2 separate regions of the Homo sapiens genome follow, and region 1 is linked to region 2. Evidence: fine-mapped QTL for protein levels in blood plasma. A gene starts in region 2. The other region holds a variant in brackets. All regions are shown on one strand. Distances are from middle to middle.

Evidence for each region. PIP is the chance, under the fine-mapping model, that this variant and not a neighbour inherited with it causes the effect. Protein levels are from the aptamer-based SomaScan assay of Sun 2018.
Region 1: its variant is fine-mapped to the plasma level of the IL1RAP protein (Sun 2018, PIP 0.95).

What each region holds. Positions count from the first base shown.
Region 1 is chr3:190,623,497-190,631,496 of GRCh38, forward strand. IL1RAP (interleukin 1 receptor accessory protein) reads left to right here. Exons shown (of 12, transcript NM_002182.4): 8 at 3,827-3,953; 9 at 5,854-6,002. It also overlaps the pseudogene GCNT1P3. Among named protein-coding and RNA genes, the nearest start is that of LINC02013, 72 kb to the right of the region's middle. The variant G/A (reference allele first, on the strand shown) is at 4,933.
Region 2 is chr3:190,508,362-190,517,796 of GRCh38, forward strand. It overlaps IL1RAP (interleukin 1 receptor accessory protein), which reads left to right and starts at 5,724. Exons shown (of 12, transcript NM_002182.4): 1 at 5,724-5,858. RefSeq lists enhancers at 5,071-5,160, 5,913-6,414, 6,415-6,914 and a silencer at 5,311-5,660.

The sequences.
Region 1 (8,000 bases), 110 kb after region 2:
AATAGACGACTGTTGTAGAGAAACACATGAATTGAAACTGAAATGTCAGAAACCAAAGCAGCTGTGGAGATCAGTTACTTCCCTGATCCCATGGGCAACTCTAGAATTTTTTGCTTCACTCTCGGTATCTGCTCCCTTCTCCCTCTGCTAGCCGTCTTCCTCTGCTGATGAGTGATTTCTGTTTGATGCAAACTTTAGCTTGCACAGGGCTTTGGTTTGCCAAGGCTGCAACATGGGCACAAGATTTAGACATCCTTCAAGCTCCTGCTCCATTATGAAAGGTCAGTGGTGGATCTTGAAGGCAAGACTGTGAATATAATAGCTAACAACTGATAAAACTAGTAGACATTGACGCAGAACACTATTGAATGCTTACTGTGGCTCTTCGGTTCTTCTTTTAGTTTCCATAATTTTTCATTATAGCCAAAAATCATTGATAACTGACCAAATACGGGATAACATGTTACTCTTTTGACTCAAAGCCTCCCACAGTTAAGTGAACAGGAAACTATAGAAAATTTTAACATTTTCTATGTTGTATCACTTACAATACATCCAGTCCAAACCCAGTGAGAGGTGTTAACCTAAATAACAACAAAGACAATAGCTCTCCAAAAAGAAAAGGATTTATTCAGGAATGAATTGCAGATAGCAATCCAGGAATATGAGTGCTATGGCATCCCATGCGGGAACCATAGCCATACCCAGAAAGCATAGGAACATAACAGTTTTGAAAGGCAAAGTGAGGAAGATTACATAAAGTTGTTCTGAAATAATTATCCTTGGTTATAAGAACCAATAACAGGGTAACATCCGTCCAGGCTTGACTGGCATTTGGTGGTCAGACCTCCTCACAGAAATATTATTTGTTTAAGAATCGCGCTGGCCTTTGTGCAAGATAGTGGTGCTCAGAGTCTTTGTACTAGTTTTTATAATAGGCATGTGTGTGTGAGGGCCCTTTTTATATGACCTCCCAACTGTTTTTCTTTGGAGTGTGACACGAGTGACTCCATTTTGACTCTGACAGCTTTCACAGAGGTATAAAAGAGCATCTGTTTAAAATGTGCTAAAGATAATAGTCAGTTGTTAATGGGTGAAAGCAACGGAGAGGATGCCATTCAATAAAAAAAAAAGGTGGAAAAAGAGGTATGTAGTTGTTCATGGAAAGCTGACAAACACAGGAACTGTCAAAATGCATCCTCCACTTGACACACCTCTTGTTTCAGGCAGTGCCTGTTTTGTGGTCAGTGGGGAGTATGTAGGATATGTATCAGAGAATGAAAAAAATTAAAAAGTTTATGGAGTGGGTGCAAGACACATACAGCCCTGATGCGTATCTCTGGGCCCTATCTAAAGGGTCCCTGAAGTCTTCAGCTCACTTTCCTTAAGCCATAAGTACAACTTGTCGGACATGCACGCAGTTGCCAGGCGGGTCAAGTGGCAGTAACTTGAGGGTGATGTTTCCGAGGGTGCTCCCTACCCACACTGCAGCGGGGTCCTCGTGTGCTCGCGGTGCATTTTTGCAGCTGGCGACTTGAACTGGGTTGTGCACAAGCACCATTGGTTTGCCAATAAGTTTAACCTGGATGTGGAACATAGATGTGGACCTCTTCGCCATCCAGTGTTTGGGTGAGCACCGGAGGCATAAAGCTTTATAGACCTTAAAACACTGACCATTATAGGCAATCTTAGGGTGCATTTTGTGCATCCTTCTTATTATTTCTATTTAGTTCCTCTTGCCAATAAGCATCAGAAAAATTGTATGGAGTCCTCTTTGGGGTAGGGATGCTAAGTCTTCATGCAGAAAAGCTGCATGGTTTCTGCAGAGCACAATTGGCTAGAAAGGCTGTAACATTAAATGTTTATCTAGAATTAACATGAGTAGGAGTAAAAGTGGCTGTGGCATCAGGGCGGGCAGCAAAGCATTCTGGAGCGAGGGGGCTAGGGTGACTGGGGAAGAGGCTGATGAAAAAAATAAATCAATTAAAAGAGTTCAGGGACTTAACAAAATGAGATTTGACCTGTGCCAAAACTATTTTGAGAATTTTAAATATGACATTTTTCCTGGTATGAATAAATTTATAGCAACAAACAATAATAAAGATACAATTGATCTTGTATGTTATGTATGTTGACAGAGAAATTTGATTTTGCTCTAAAAAAGATAATAGTGATCAACATAGATGGAGAACAATGCCAAAAAAAATCAAGATAAGTTTGAAAATATGACTTGCTTTGTGAAACACAGAGAACATGGTAAGAGGCTGAATTTCCTAGAATTAGGTATGGCTTTATATAGTCATATGAATACTCTTCCTGCTGTCAGGGTAAACCCTTATTAATAACATAAATATATTTGTCTACCTGTCAAACTATGCTGACAGAAGGATTGTTGAATCCGTGTTCCCTTTATCTTTCTTAGTGACATACAGATAGGGAAAACTGGAGGGAAAAGACTTAAGGACGTTGCAATGGGAGGGTAGATAGAGTATGGCCACGCAGTCAGGTAAGCCTAAGTTCAAATTAGGGTGACGATATAATTTATCATCTAAACCAGGACACTTTCTGTGAGTAAACATAGCCACTACCTATTAATATAGGTAACCAGGAAAGCAGGCATAAAACAGAACTGTTCTGGGCAAACTGGGATGGAAGGTCAGTCTAGGTCAAATCCTGGCCCTTCACTTATTACTGATTTAACTTAGGAATATCATTTAGCATCCTTAAGCTTCACCTTTTACATTTGGGAAACATAGATTTTAAAAAATACCTTATGGTGCTTTTGTAAGATTAAATAAGACCATTAATAAATATAAATATTTAGCATAATAACTTGTACAAAGTTCTTAGTAAGTATGTTGCTACTGCTGCTGTTACTACTGTTTTCTGCCTAGGGATCTCCCTAACCTCATGTTCCATCTCAGAGGGATAGCATAGAGTTTTCTATTTTTAAGTTATCTTAAAATTTATTGAATGCACCCTGATAGGTGGAGCATTTCAAGGTGGGCCTCCTCAGCCAGATCTCTCTGTGATGGTATTTCCCCATCTTTCCTGGCCAAGGACTGAAGATATGGAGAACCTGTCCTCAGTCACCCTTCTTGAGGAAAATAACAAAGGAGAAGAGCAGTCTCTGGAGGTCTAGGGCTAAAAAGAATATTGTCAGAGACCTTTTTTTTTTTTTTTTTTTTTTTGGAGATGGAGTCTCACTCTGTTGCCCAGGCTGGAGTGCAGTGGCACAGTCTTGGCTCACTGCAACCTCCACCTCCTGAGTTCAAGCAATTCTCCTACCTCAGCCCCCCAAGTAGCTGGGATTACAGGCGGTGCCACCATGCCCGGCTAATTTTTGTATTTTTAGTAGAGACGGGGTTTCACCATGTTGGCCAGGCTGGTCTTGAACTCCTCACCTCAAGTGATCCACCTGCCTCGGCCTCCCAAAGTGCTGGGATTACAGGTGTGAGCCACTATGCCTAGCCTTGTCAGAGACTTTTTAAACAAATATCATCATTTTAGAATTTATTTAGATTACATTAAAAATGGTCACTCTGGTAATTTTATACAAAGTTGATGGCCTTCTTTATTTGGTTTCGCTTGTTTGTTTTGGAATGAAGTATGGTGCATTACCTTATGGGAGTCGACTAGAGAATTACTCATAAGCAGGGTTTCAGGTACACATAACTCGTAGCTTCTGATTAGCCAGAGAGTAGAACCAATATAGCCATGTGAAGGATAAACACTAATGGGCTAACTTTGTCTTTGTTTTTTGTTTTGTTTTGTTTTGTTTTGTTTTGTTTTTTGTTTTTTTTGTTTTTTTGGTTTTTTTTTTCAGGAGAGGAGCTACTCATTCCCTGTACGGTCTATTTTAGTTTTCTGATGGATTCTCGCAATGAGGTTTGGTGGACCATTGATGGAAAAAAACCTGATGACATCACTATTGATGTCACCATTAACGAAAGGTATCATGGGGGCCAGCAAGGGAGTGATTAACCTTTGTTTCTCAACTTAATGATCTCTGATGTGTGTTCTAGTCAATGAAAATAAAAATTCTCATTTTTCCCTATCACTAACAAAAATCGGCAAGATTTTCAAATCTTTGGTGATTGCATCCCAAACCAGGGTTACTGGGCTAGCAATGCAAGGAATAGATGCTGCCTGATGACCAGTGGAGAGCTGAATTAGAATGTTCTGAGGCTGAGCATCTTCATCAGATTGTCCAGAGGACATGCACCCTATTGTCTTAAGCCCAGCAAGATTCACACATTTATGATACCCACATGGAAGTAGAGAGAATACATATCTTACATGAATAAAAAGGTCACAATCAAGGGTTGTGGGTACGTGGAAACCTACAGTGTAGTTGTGTTTTTTCCTTTTCTCAATCCTAGTGTCTGGCCCTATGTATTTGTGCCTTAGGTAATTGTGTTTTGTTTTTTTTTGCATTGCAGTGAGCATGCATTTTCTCTCTCCTCCTCTTTCTTATCTCATATAACCTATAGTTACATTTATAATTAGTAATTTTTAATATTAACTAAATACGTTTGTGTAATTTAAATTTTATTTTAAAGGTAGATGGGTAGTAATATAACTCACTTTTAAAATAAAATAACATTTTATTCCTAAATAAACCTGATTTTTTAAAGCGTTGGCAAAGTGGAAAGTGTGCGTCCTTGAAGACAGAAGGTTCCACTGCAAATGAAGCATACCATTACCGAACAGCAGTTGGCTCACTGCACCAATTAAAAATTTGCAGCTGGTCAGCTATATGACAAAGTAATGTAGCTGGAGGCTCACAGGGAGAATTATTGATCTTTTTTAGGAATTTTTAACACTTTGTAGCCCATCCTTATAATAATAATGAATAAATAACAAGGAAAGTCATGTTGTTCCACCTTGCTGCTGTTGAAACGTACTCAGTGTTCATAGGATAGCAGTGGC[G/A]TTAAGCTTAAGCAAAACCAATCAGAGCCCTTAACCAAATTCTCATACCTGACAGTAAGCCTAGTTAAAAAGAGAACCTAGATGGCAGTCAGCTGTAGCAGAGAGATTTTTCTCTGCGATAAGTAAAGGAGTTCAAAGGGATTTTAAATTCTGATCTTGGACCCAAAACACTTGATCTCTGATTCACTGAGAGTTGGATATATTTATTTTTACAAAGTTTACGTGTTCATAACAGCTTTCTCTTTTTATATGTTAGGATTTAACCATGAGATTTCAGATTTCTGACCACAGTATTCTAGCTGTGTTCAGAATCCATGCTTTGGGAATCACTGAAATGCATCAGCTATTCCTATGGGATAACAGTAATACCTACATGAATATTTATTAAGCATTATTCTAATATTCATGCCTTAGCATATTCAGTCCTCAGAATTCCTGAATAAATTAATGCATGTAATGCACTGTGTGGGCATTATGACTTCCCTCTTTTCCAAAAGAGGAACCTGAGACCTGGAAAGATTAGTTATCTCACCCAAAGTATATAGCCAGGAATTGACAAATCCTGGATAAAAACCCAAAAGGACCTGGCCCCAGAAGCTTCTCTCTAAACTGATACAGCATCCTGGCTCAGAAGTTTAAGCAAAAGAGACATTTTGTTTTGAAGAGAGATCTATAAAAAGAAGCCAGTATTGGGATTTGGTCTAGACAATGGGATAGTGTGTAGCGTAGATGGTATAGTATAGTGTTAGAATCTTACCATTAATACTTTGTAATCACTGCATTATAGGTGGCTCAGCTTATCAACCTTCCTCGCCCTCACCTGTAGTGGGGGTCTGTGGTTGCTTACTTGTCTGATTCCTACACAGTCCATAGCTCTTGAGTCACTCTCAAATGCTTTGATTTTCTTCTCTCTATTTCTAGTATAAGTCATAGTAGAACAGAAGATGAAACAAGAACTCAGATTTTGAGCATCAAGAAAGTTACCTCTGAGGATCTCAAGCGCAGCTATGTCTGTCATGCTAGAAGTGCCAAAGGCGAAGTTGCCAAAGCAGCCAAGGTGAAGCAGAAAGGTAATAGATGCGGTCAGTGATGAATCTCTCAGCTCCAAATTAACATTGTGGTGAATAAGGACAAAAGGAGAGATTGAGAACAAGAGAGCTCCAGCACCTAGCCCGACGGCATCTAACCCATAGTAATGAATCAAACTTAAATGAAAAATATGAAAGTTTTCATCTATGTAAGATACTCAAAATATTGTTTCTGATATTGTTAGTACCGTAATGCCCAAATGTAGCTAAAAAAATCGACGTGAGTACAGTGAGACACAATTTTGTGTCTGTACAATTATGAAAAATTAAAAACAAAGAAAATATTCAAAGCTACCAAAGATAGAAAAAACTGGTAGAGCCACATATTGTTGGTGAATTATTAAGACCCTTTTAAAAATCATTCATGGTAGACTTCAAGAGTCATAAAAAAGATTGCATCATCTGACCTAAGACTTTCGGAATTTTTCCTGAACAAATAACAGAAAGGGAATTATATACCTTTTAATATTATTAGAAGCATTATCTGTAGTTGTAAAACATTATTAATAGCAGCCATCCAATTGTATGCAACTAATTAAGGTATTGAATGTTTATTTTCCAAAAATGCATAATTATAATATTATTTTAAACACTATGTATCAATATTTAAGCAGGTTTATAATATACCAGCAGCCACAATTGCTAAAATGAAAATCATTTAAATTATGATTTTAAATGGTATAAACATGATTTCTATGTTGATAGTACTATATTATTCTACAATAAATGGAAATTATAAAGCCTTCTTGTCAGAAGTGCTGCTCCTAAATCAGACTGTGTCTAAAACTTTCTTTGTGTCTCTCACCTAACACAGAATCCCAGAAAATCCCTTCAAGGATGTTTTCAATGGTCTTGAGAAAAGTAATGATGAGTTATCACACATGAAATCATGAAATCAGGTCATTCAGAATCCTCCTGGCTCCTAGTCTATAGAGTGTGTAATATTTCTTCAAAAGTGAATAACATAGCACATAATTGTTACATTTTACAGAGACTTAATGCTTTTTTAAAGCTGATGAAAAACAGGATTCACCTCAAACTTTCATTACAACTTTAAAACTAAATAGCAAAGGCCTGAAATGTATATGCTGCGTATGAAGTACTAGTGAATCAGTTCAGGGTAATTCATTGCTTCTGCTCCTCAGAAGCCAGTGTGAAAAGGAAAGACTGAAGTACATGATGTAAGGCAGTTTCCCAAATTGAGTTCTCGGGAACACTACTAAGAATCAGTATTGTCCTGCAATGCATTATTGTACTCTAGAATCAGAGCACCTGTGTTGAAATTCTGGTTTCTGCACATCCTAACTCTGTGAAAAGTAAATCTCTCTGAGCCTTAATTTCCTTATATTTAAAGTAGACACAATAATACCACTACCTTATAAGGTTGTTTTAAAGTGCTCAGCACAGTTATTGGCATATATACCTATATATGAAATGCTCAATAAATATGAACTCATTATTTCCTTAAGATTTTCATAGGTGTTATTTGACAAAGGCTTTTATCATCAAATAAGTATCATTTATGTCTGGATTTTAAAAAATCAATCAAGTTACTTTAGTTAGGACCCATTCAAGTATTTAATATGTGAACATTTGATGGGAATATCTGCGGGAAGTTGGATTATAGTGGCAGGATGTTTTCATATGTATTTGACTCCAGATTTCTTAAGTATGGAGCTTTTTGTGGGGATCATCTTCTGAGGGATGTATCCTGGGGAATAATTATGGAAGGTGACATAAATTAATAACTTATTGTCAAATGAATAGGATCAGAACAATCAAAGCAAGGTGTAATGTAGGAGTGAAGCACAAGTTTGCCTCCCAGAGCGACCAGAGTAGCTCCCCTTTTACAGAAGCCCCTGCTCTAAATGGTGTAATAAGGACAGTGTCAGGAATGTGAAGTGACAGGTGGATCCTCTAGACTAGATGATCTGTGCTGAAAGCTGATATAAAATCACTGTTTGGTCACACCTGTGTATT
Region 2 (9,435 bases):
GCTGTTTCCTCTGCTATCAATAGTTACTAAATAAAATCTGTTTTCATGGCTTTAACTAACGTCAGGCAGTGTTTCTCTTTGACACCTCCACGTGGGAGTAGTGCCCTGTGATGGGAGTCAGCTTCAACCCTATGCAGATAAATAGAGATTGGAAGGGTTCCAGAAGTTCCCCTTTCCCCTCTTGTCTTTCAGGACTGCATGTAACCCAGGTAGTGAGTCTGAAGGATAGAAATGAGTGAAGCTGGCTAGGCGCGGTGGCTCACGCCTGTAATCCCAGCACTTTGAGAGGCCGAGGTGGGTGGATCACCTGATGTCAGGAATTCGAGACCAGCCTGGCCAACATGGTGAAACCTCATCTCTACTAAAAATAGAAAAATTAGCTGGGAGTGGTGGTGGGCACCTGTAGTCCCAGGTACTCTGGAGGCTGAGGGAGGAGAATCACTTGAACCTGGGAAGCGCAGGTTGCAGTGAGCCAAGATCACACCACTGCACTCTAGCCTGGGCGACAGAGCGAGACTCAGTCTAAAAAAAAACAAAAAAGGAAAAGAAAAGAAATGAGTGAAGCCTCCCACTGCACAGTCAAATTTCCAATTTCCTCTTCCAAACGACTTGAATTTCAATAGTTGGGTATATGTGTTTGAACAAATTAGCATATCTCTTCAACAAGGTAGAGTTGAGCTCTTAGTAATCAACACCTTATCATTACTGTTTAATCTGCTTATTTCCCTACACCTAGCCGAATCAAACTGAAGGAAGAGAGGCTTTTGTCAGAAACAGATGCAATAAAAAGGAAGAGGGATACCTGACTTGGAAACCCAGGGCACCACAGAGGAAGTGGGGGCAGGCATAACTAAGTGCTGCGAGGGGAAATGTGAACACCCAGAGAACAGGTACAAGGGTCAGCTGGGGATGGAGGAGAAAAGAGCTGAGGGGTATAAAAGGTGGAAACGTAAAAGGGTTTGGAAGGTGATATAATTACTTTTTCCTTTTTTCACTTTTTTTTTCTTTTCTCTTGGCTCCTGCCCTTCACCTTCCTTCCAAAAGCTCAAAATAAAATGTCTCTATAATGTGCTTTCTTTACTCTGTACCCAGCCAAATATATACACATATATATACGTGTATATATATATACGTATATATATGTATATATATTAAACATATATACGTATATATATAGACACACACACACACACACACATATATATATATATAATTTGTTGTTTTAGTTTTTGTCTTCCAATGATTCTGATCTCCCAAAAAAATGTAAATCAAAGGAAGAGGGCGATATATAAGTCACTTAATATCTTTGTATCAAAGTTTAACCATGAGAGTTTTGGACTGAATTGTAACTCAACAAATGTTTATTCAATGAGTACTACGTGCAAAATATTGTCTGTTTGCCAGGGAAACATTATATTACCCTCCCGGAGTTAGCATTCTAGTGAAAACAGCATTCAATAAGTAAATTAATTAAAATGTTACGTAATGTATTATTTGACTTGGTTGTCAGGAAAAGCTTTGCTGGGAAGGTTATAGTGGAGCAGGGACATTAATGAAGATGTGAGTAAGAGGAGAGAACAAGCAACAGGGGAACAGCGGTCCAGCAAGGGGGAACAGCAGGTGCAAACACCCTAGTATGGGAACATGTTAGTGTGTTTGGTCGACAGCAAGGAGCATGCTATGGGAGATTGAAAGAAGCAACTCAGTGCTGGATCATGTAGGGCCACACAAGGACTTTTAGGCCATAAATGACTATGGAAATTTATCTGATCATGATAAGAAATCACTATTTGAAAGCAGAGAATGACATATTTCTTGTAAAAGAATAATGAATATTTATATTGCATTTCTACATGCCAATCCCCATGCCAAGTGTTTTACTTATATAATCTCATTTAATTTAAAAACAGCACTATAATGTATATTATTGTCATTGTTATTCATATTTTTCAGAGAATAAAACTGTGAAAAAAAGAAATTAAGTAACTTGACCACATTATGTAAACTTGATCCCAGGTAGTCGGGCTTCAGATTCCTTGACCTCAATCACTAGCCTGTATTTATTCTATTTTCATTTATAAGGGTCTCTGAAGTAAGGGCAATAGACTCTTTGGGTAAGAGTTTAAGCAGGGACACCAGTGAGGGGAGAGATGGCAATGACTTGAACCATGGTGGTTGTGATGGAGAAGAGGAATAGCGTGGTTGGATTTGAGATGTGTTTTGAATGTAGAGGAAGCAGAAGGTTTGTGGATATAATGTGTACAGGCAATGAGAGAGAGTGATAACTCCAACTTTTTGACCTGAGCAACTGGGTAAAAGACAGTGTTGCTTACAAAGCTCTGGTTTGGTGTGGGGCAGAAATAAAGTTTGAATTTGAACATGTAAAGTTTGAGATGTATTTAAAACATCCAAGAAGGAGATATGAAGGAGGTAATATGGTATACAAAGTCTGGTTTGGGCTTTAGATTTAGATTTGCAAGTTATTATCATATTGATATTTTAGAAGGCCATGTGTCTGTCTGAGTTCCCCTAGGTAGAGAATATAACCACTTCAAGGATTGAGCTCTAGGACACTGGAACCTTCAGAGATCATGAAGAGGTAGAGGATTCAATAAGAATCTGATAAGGAACAGCAGATGAAATACATGAAAAACAAAGAGTCAAGTACGAGAGAGTGTGAAAGAGCAACAGATTATCTGTGTCTAATGCTGCTGATACATGTACAATGAAGACAGAGAATTGATCACCACATTTGGCAAAGTGAAGATCATTACAGATGCTGACTGTGGAGTGGTAGAGATAAATGTCTGAATGGATTGGGTTCAAGAGACTAGCAAACTCCTGATGCGTCTTACAGCTACAGCAAGATAATTAAAGATAACCTAAAAAAAAGGTGGAGGGTAAAAGCTGGGAGAAGAAGAGAATAATAATACCTTTCCAAATACATCAATCAATTGCAAAATATTTTATTGTGCATCTTCTATACATCCAGCAGTATTAGTCACTGACATCAATGAATTTGTAGCTTCATTTATTCATTTAGGCAACTATTATTCATCAAATGTTTAGTATGTGATGGATATTTAATGGGTATAGCTTTAAAATATTTTTCTCAATTGTTAGCATAACATTTTTTCATTTTTAATTATTACGGGTACATAATAGGTGTATATATGTATGGGTGACATGTGATGTTTTGATACATGCATACAATGTGTAATAATCACATCAGGGTAATGACAACAGGGTGTCATCACCTTGACCATTTGTCACTTCTTTGAGGAACATTCCAATTTCACTCTTACTTATTTTAAAATGCATAATTAATTATTGTTGACTGTAGTCACTCTGTTGTGCTATCAAGTGCTGGGTCTTATACATTCCAGCTAATTATATTTTTGCAACCGTTAACCATCCTCCCTTCCCCACAACTCCCTTGCCTCTGCTACTCTTCCCAGCCTCTGGTAACCATCATTCTACTCTCATATCTCAGTTCCTTTGTTTAATTTTTAGCTCCCACGTGTGAGTGAGAATTTGCAAAATTTGTCTTTCTGTGCTTGGTTTATTTCACTTAAATGTAAAAGGAAAAAGAGATGTTTCTATTTCTGTAATCCTAACATATCAACATTTTTTCACATTCCTTTCAATTGGTGTTCATCTCTCCACAACTTTTACTCAACCTTATTTTGTAAGCCTTTTTCTTTGTAGACATATTTCCATAATATGATAGTTATGATGCAAATATTTTATTCTGTGCGTAGACAGCGTTGGTTAACTAATCATTTTCATTTCCAACCATTTATATTGTGTTCAAACTACAATATACTATGAATATTTGTCTATATGATTATTCATCTTAATGTTATCTTCCTTAAGCTATGAGTAGCCCTTCAATGTCCGGGAATATACATCTGGTTCAATTCTGAATTACTAGCATCTGTTTGGCTTCTAGGTAGTACATGAGACTGAGTAGCGGCTGAGAGCATGAACGTCGAGTGTCTCTAGTCTCATTTTGTATTCTCCACTTGTAGGCCTGTAGCCTTGGTCAAGTTATTTAAATTCCCTTTATCTCCTTTATGAACTGGAGATAATAATAGCACCCTCCAGGTTGTATTGAGGGTTACCTGAATTAATATACACAAAGTCCTTATGATTGCACCTTTTTATTTTGTAAGCACTGTGTAAATGCTTCAGTGTACTATATATATATAAAAGTCTGTGCCCAGAATATATTTAAGGAATGAATAATAAATCAGAAAATGTTTTATTGTTGCTTCATACAGGTAACATTTTAAATTCTTTTGGATTATTTTCTCTTTGGTTCAGTGACAATGTTGTGAGCAGGTGCTGGGTCCCAGGTATCCTGAGATAAATAAAAATTTTGAGCAATTAATTTTCATAAGTGATGTCAAGAAGTAAAGTATCATGAACATTTCTATGGCTCCAATTACACTGATATTTCACCTTAGGAACTGAAGCTCCGCCAGGGCAGGGGCAGCCTCTGAGTTTCGTACTGCTGTGCACCTTTAGCAGCACGGGCACCTGCTGGTTTCATTTCCTTCCCACTCACCTGGGCCCTTTTCTTATTTCACATCTTTTTTCTCCTTTTCCTTAAATGCTTTCTCTGAATCTTGATTCTTGAAAATAAATTAGTAGGATTCAGTTAGGTAGGAGGAGGAGAAAAGAAGATGTGATGAGCAAGAAGATGTGCGAAGACTCGTCAGTCTGGTAGGTGGCTTTGGTTAGGGGGTTTCAGAAATGGGGACAGGTCATGAAGGGCCTTGCCAGTCAGGAAAAATCATGAGGCACTAGCAGTAGGAACACAGCAGAAGGTGCCTGAACAAGAGAGATGACTTAATGAAAGCCTTTATAACGCTTCCCGGGATATATTACAGACTACCATCTACAGTGGCAGAGGGCAGCTGAAGGAAGGCTCTTGCAAAAACTTGGGGAAATGGAAATGAATGAAGGCAAATATTTGTTTTGAGATTATTTCCTTCTATGTAACCTATTAGTTCTTTTATTCGTTCCCCATACATGTATTGAGTGCCTACTTTGTGCCAGGCACTGTGCTAGGCAATGGGTATATTACCAGTGGACAATACAGATTTAGTCTTGCTGTCATGTCCTGTTGCTTGCTCATATGAATGTCAGTTCAAGACAGCAAGAGCTCAGGACTGCGGAGATCGCATCTACATCCTGCCGCGCTCTGTGCCGGCACAGGGTGGTTGCGAAAATCGTGCAGTCTGAATTGATTCAAGGCCTTGCAGCATGATTGCTAAATACGTCGAGACAGGAAGAAAGGGCAGGGTGGCACCGATCTCAACTGCGAGAGCACGATCTTGCAATGAGCGCATGTGTGCGCCTCGGTGTGTAGTGAGGGGCGTAGCTTCCCACAGCGCCTGGCAGCGTGCCGAGCTGCGCTGCAGGACTAACCCTCTCCTTTCCCCGCGCGCTCAAGCCCGCACAGGCGGTGGCAGGGAGCCGAAGGGGCCGAGCGCAGCCTTGCATCCGTCCGCAGGCGGGCCCGGCGCCGCGCCTCCTGGCGGCGGGCGGGACCGTCCAGGACGCCGCCCCGCGGCCGCAGCTCCTGGAAGCCCAGAGCGCCGGTGGATCGCGAGCCAAGGCGGCGGGTGGAGCCTGAGCCGTGAGGCCGTGGCCAATCGCGCCGCTCCGGGGGAGGAGCCCCAAAGGGGGAAAAGAAAGTGCGGCGGAAAGTAAGAGGCTCACTGGGGAAGACTGCCGGGATCCAGGTCTCCGGGGTCCGCTTTGGCCAGAGGCGCGGAAGGAAGCAGTGCCCGGCGACACTGCACCCATCCCGGCTGCTTTTGCTGCGCCCTCTCAGCTTCCCAAGAAAGGTGAGTCTCGCGCCGCCGTGAGGGCTCAGAAGTCACCAAGCCGCAGAATCTCAGGGTAGACGGATTCTTAGAGATCCTATCGTTAAACCCTCCTACTTTACAGAAGAGGAAACTGAGGCACAGAACGAGGCAGCGGCTGGGATAGGTCATACTGCTAGTTAGGACTGGAGCCCGGATTCGAACCCAAACGTTCAGAGACCCATCTTTGCTTTGCAGGGATTTAAGTAACGCGGTTGTGGGACGTCTGCTCGTTGCCGCCCCCATCCTCAGCCCTTTGAGGGGTCTACCCTTGTTTTCCTCCTCACCGCCCCCTCCCCGCTACCACCCCCCGCCCCCATCTCCTCCTTGGTTTCTCCAGACCGCTGCTGGAAGCGCCGAGGACAGAAGGAAGCGGTGTGTCCCAGCACGCCCACTCGGTATCACGTCGCTCTCAGCGCAGAGCTGTGACAGCCTGGGAAAATGCTGCTTGCAGCCTCACTCCCTCTTCCCCTGACCTGCTTTCTCAGAAAGATGCCCCTTCAGAGGGTGTCGGACCAGCTTCTGGAGGAGCGCGGGGAGAGAGGAGCGAGGCCCGGGCGCCAGTGACCTCCTATGGTACTGTTTCTTCCCAGCCCCGGAGGAAGCGGAGCTAGTGGCCCTGTGGGGCACAGGGTGCCCCTCACTTGGGAAGAGCTGACTTCATGGAACCATAGAGCCCCTTCCCTCTTCTAAATACTGAGAGGGAGCAAGGAAGCTGAGTTAAAGAGAAAATCACAAACATAAAAGCAAACTTCGGCTGTTTCCTTTAAGAGCTAGCCCACAGCCTGTCTTCCCTCCACCTTCTGGTTGTGAAATTGTGAACCAGGGCGCCACGCGAAGCATTCTGCTGCTCTGCTGTACAGATCCCTGGTTTAGCTACTGGATGAGAAAGAGGACTTGAGTTTTGACTCCAGCTCTTCCATGTATTAGCAGTGTGAACTTGGGCAAGTTATCTCACCTTTCCGATACTGGGTTTTTCTTTTCTTTCTTTCTTCCTTTTTTTTTTTTCCAGCCAAAAAATGGAGATTTATAATGGTCACAATGAGCCCTTTGGGTAGTTGGAAGGATGAAATGGGATCATTCAAGTAGCATGTTTAGCACAGTGCCTGGCCTGGCATCTGGTTGGTTCAAAACCAATGGCAACTATTGTAAATATTGTTACATAGTAACCTTGCAGACAGTGGGTTTTCAGAAAGGTGATTTCATACCATCTTACAGAGGCATTTTAAAAAAATCTGTAAATGTGGTGTCTTTCTTCTTTTGAATTTGAGCAACTCTTTTATAATAAGAATTTTCTGAATGTTGTCCATATGTGATGTGGATCATGGATGCTTAGCTCGAAATGTAAAATTGATGTTTCTCGGTGATATGAATTTCCTACTAGTTTTTAGGTCAAACCTCAGGCCTGTGAACTGCCCTGATCTGAGACATCCTTTATTGACAAAGAGGGTCTTGAAATGGGTGAGAGGCAGAAAGACAAGAAGACAAAGTTGGAAGTTGCAGCTGTGTTACAGATTATTCTAAGCCTTCTATCCTTGCTCTCTTAGGTCAGTCGAGCAACCTTACATTTTTCATCTAGTATCAGAAAACAAACAAAATTCTCATATATTTCTTTTGGATTGTACAGAGATGCTGCTAAATGCAAACCTTTCTGGACACAAACTTGCCTTATTTAAACACGAACACACAGACATTCACATGCCCACACTAGTCTTCCTGTATTATTGGTATTTTAAAGTTAAATGGATTCCCTCCCACACCCTTAACCCTTCTCATGACAATTGATTTTATTCTGATGAACTTCATGCAATAATTTACTACTATCTACTGGCTTTGCCATGCGTCCTTAAATTGAGTGTCCAGCATTTGTAGTTGGCTGCCTCCTTCACAGGCCATAGCATTTGTATGCAGTATTGGTAAGTGCTTGAGAACAGAGTGTGATACATCTTGATGGAAGATAAGAGCCCAGTGGTGCCCACTTAAGTACCTCCCGCACCAAGCATTAGTAAAGGATGGGATCACCTGCTTCTATCAGCTTGTTCCATGTACATGCATTGTGGTGAGCTGGCTGGGATATGACTGAATGTGTGCCTGAGAGACAGGGGCCTTGTGGGGGAAAAGGAAAATGTTCAAAATAAGGTCAGATCATGAGGATGGAAGGGAGATTAAAAGCTAATTCCTTTGGTTCTGATTCTTCAAAGAAAGGTTGGTCAATTATACCCATATCTTCATACAGATTATTACTTGTTACCAAAACCATATATATGTATAGAACTTTAAAATTTCCAAAGTGCATTCTGTATATATGATACTCCTTGTTACTCACAATAGCCCTGGGAGGACATGGCAAGAATATTAATAGAGGAAGGAGCCCAGGTTTTGTGGTCAGACCTACTTGATTTCAAATTCCAGCTCTCATGCCTGAGTAGTTGGGTGATATTGAGCAGTTTATTTAATCATTTGAAGTTTCTGTTTTATCCAGTTCTAAAATGGAAAAAAAAAATGCTTACTTTAAAAATCTGTATAACGAATAAATTCAATAGAATAATGTCAAGTACATGTAGTGAATAGGTGCTCATTAAATGATATCTCTTCTTAGCTAGTCTCAATTTATTTAGAACATAACTGGAATGAGACTCAGAGAAATGAAAAGTTGCTAGAGGTCATGTGTTAGTATGTTTCAACTCTGGGAATACAGTTCACACCTTTTCATGTCTAGTTTAGGGCATTTCCCATCACACTCTGTTTCCTCGCCAATGAGATATTTAACAATTTACTTCAGTTATAAAGTTGACCTTATTTGTCTGGTTATTTCAGGATATCCTTTTTGTTGAAAAGCAGGTATTTTCTTGCAAAGAGAACAATCCTTAAGCACAGTTCTGTAGAGTTTAGTGGAGCCAACTGTCATAAGAGGGTATTTAAAGCAATGGTCTCTAAGACAACCTTCCTACTCTCCTGTGTTGGATGTAATACACCTTTGATTCCTAAGAGAAAGGGTACTAACTAAGAAGACATAAAGTACAGAATTATATCACTCTTTTCTTCCTGTTGTGAGTGGTTTCTTCCCTCTGCCATCCTCATGCTAGTTCAAAGGCTGGGAAGAAGATTGAACAACAAATGTTATGAGTGTCCATGGCATTATTCAACTTTTTTTTTTGACAATTTTGTGGGTACTGAGTAGAGTAGACAGAATAATGTGCAAAGGTGGCATTTGCAGAAAGAGACCACTGCTTCCTGGTGGTGCTGATTACTTGTCTGGAGTTTCACTCCTCCTTGTGGAAAGTGATGGCTGGAGGCTCATGTTGGAAGATGAAGGGATCTGTTTCTGGCCCAGGCAGTGGGGCTGTTCATCTGCTGAGACTTCTCATAGGCCATTAGATTTCTCTTCTTTGTAGCAAGCACACAGGCTTGCAAACGCAGATGTAGAAGGAACATTTTGCTCCTTGCTTTTGGCATTTTGGAGCATATGTTTGCTCCTATAGGTAAGCAGTTAGCATCATCTTACCTGGCACGGTTAGGAAAGCAGAATGTGGCTTGAGGAAATCAGAGGACGTAGAAA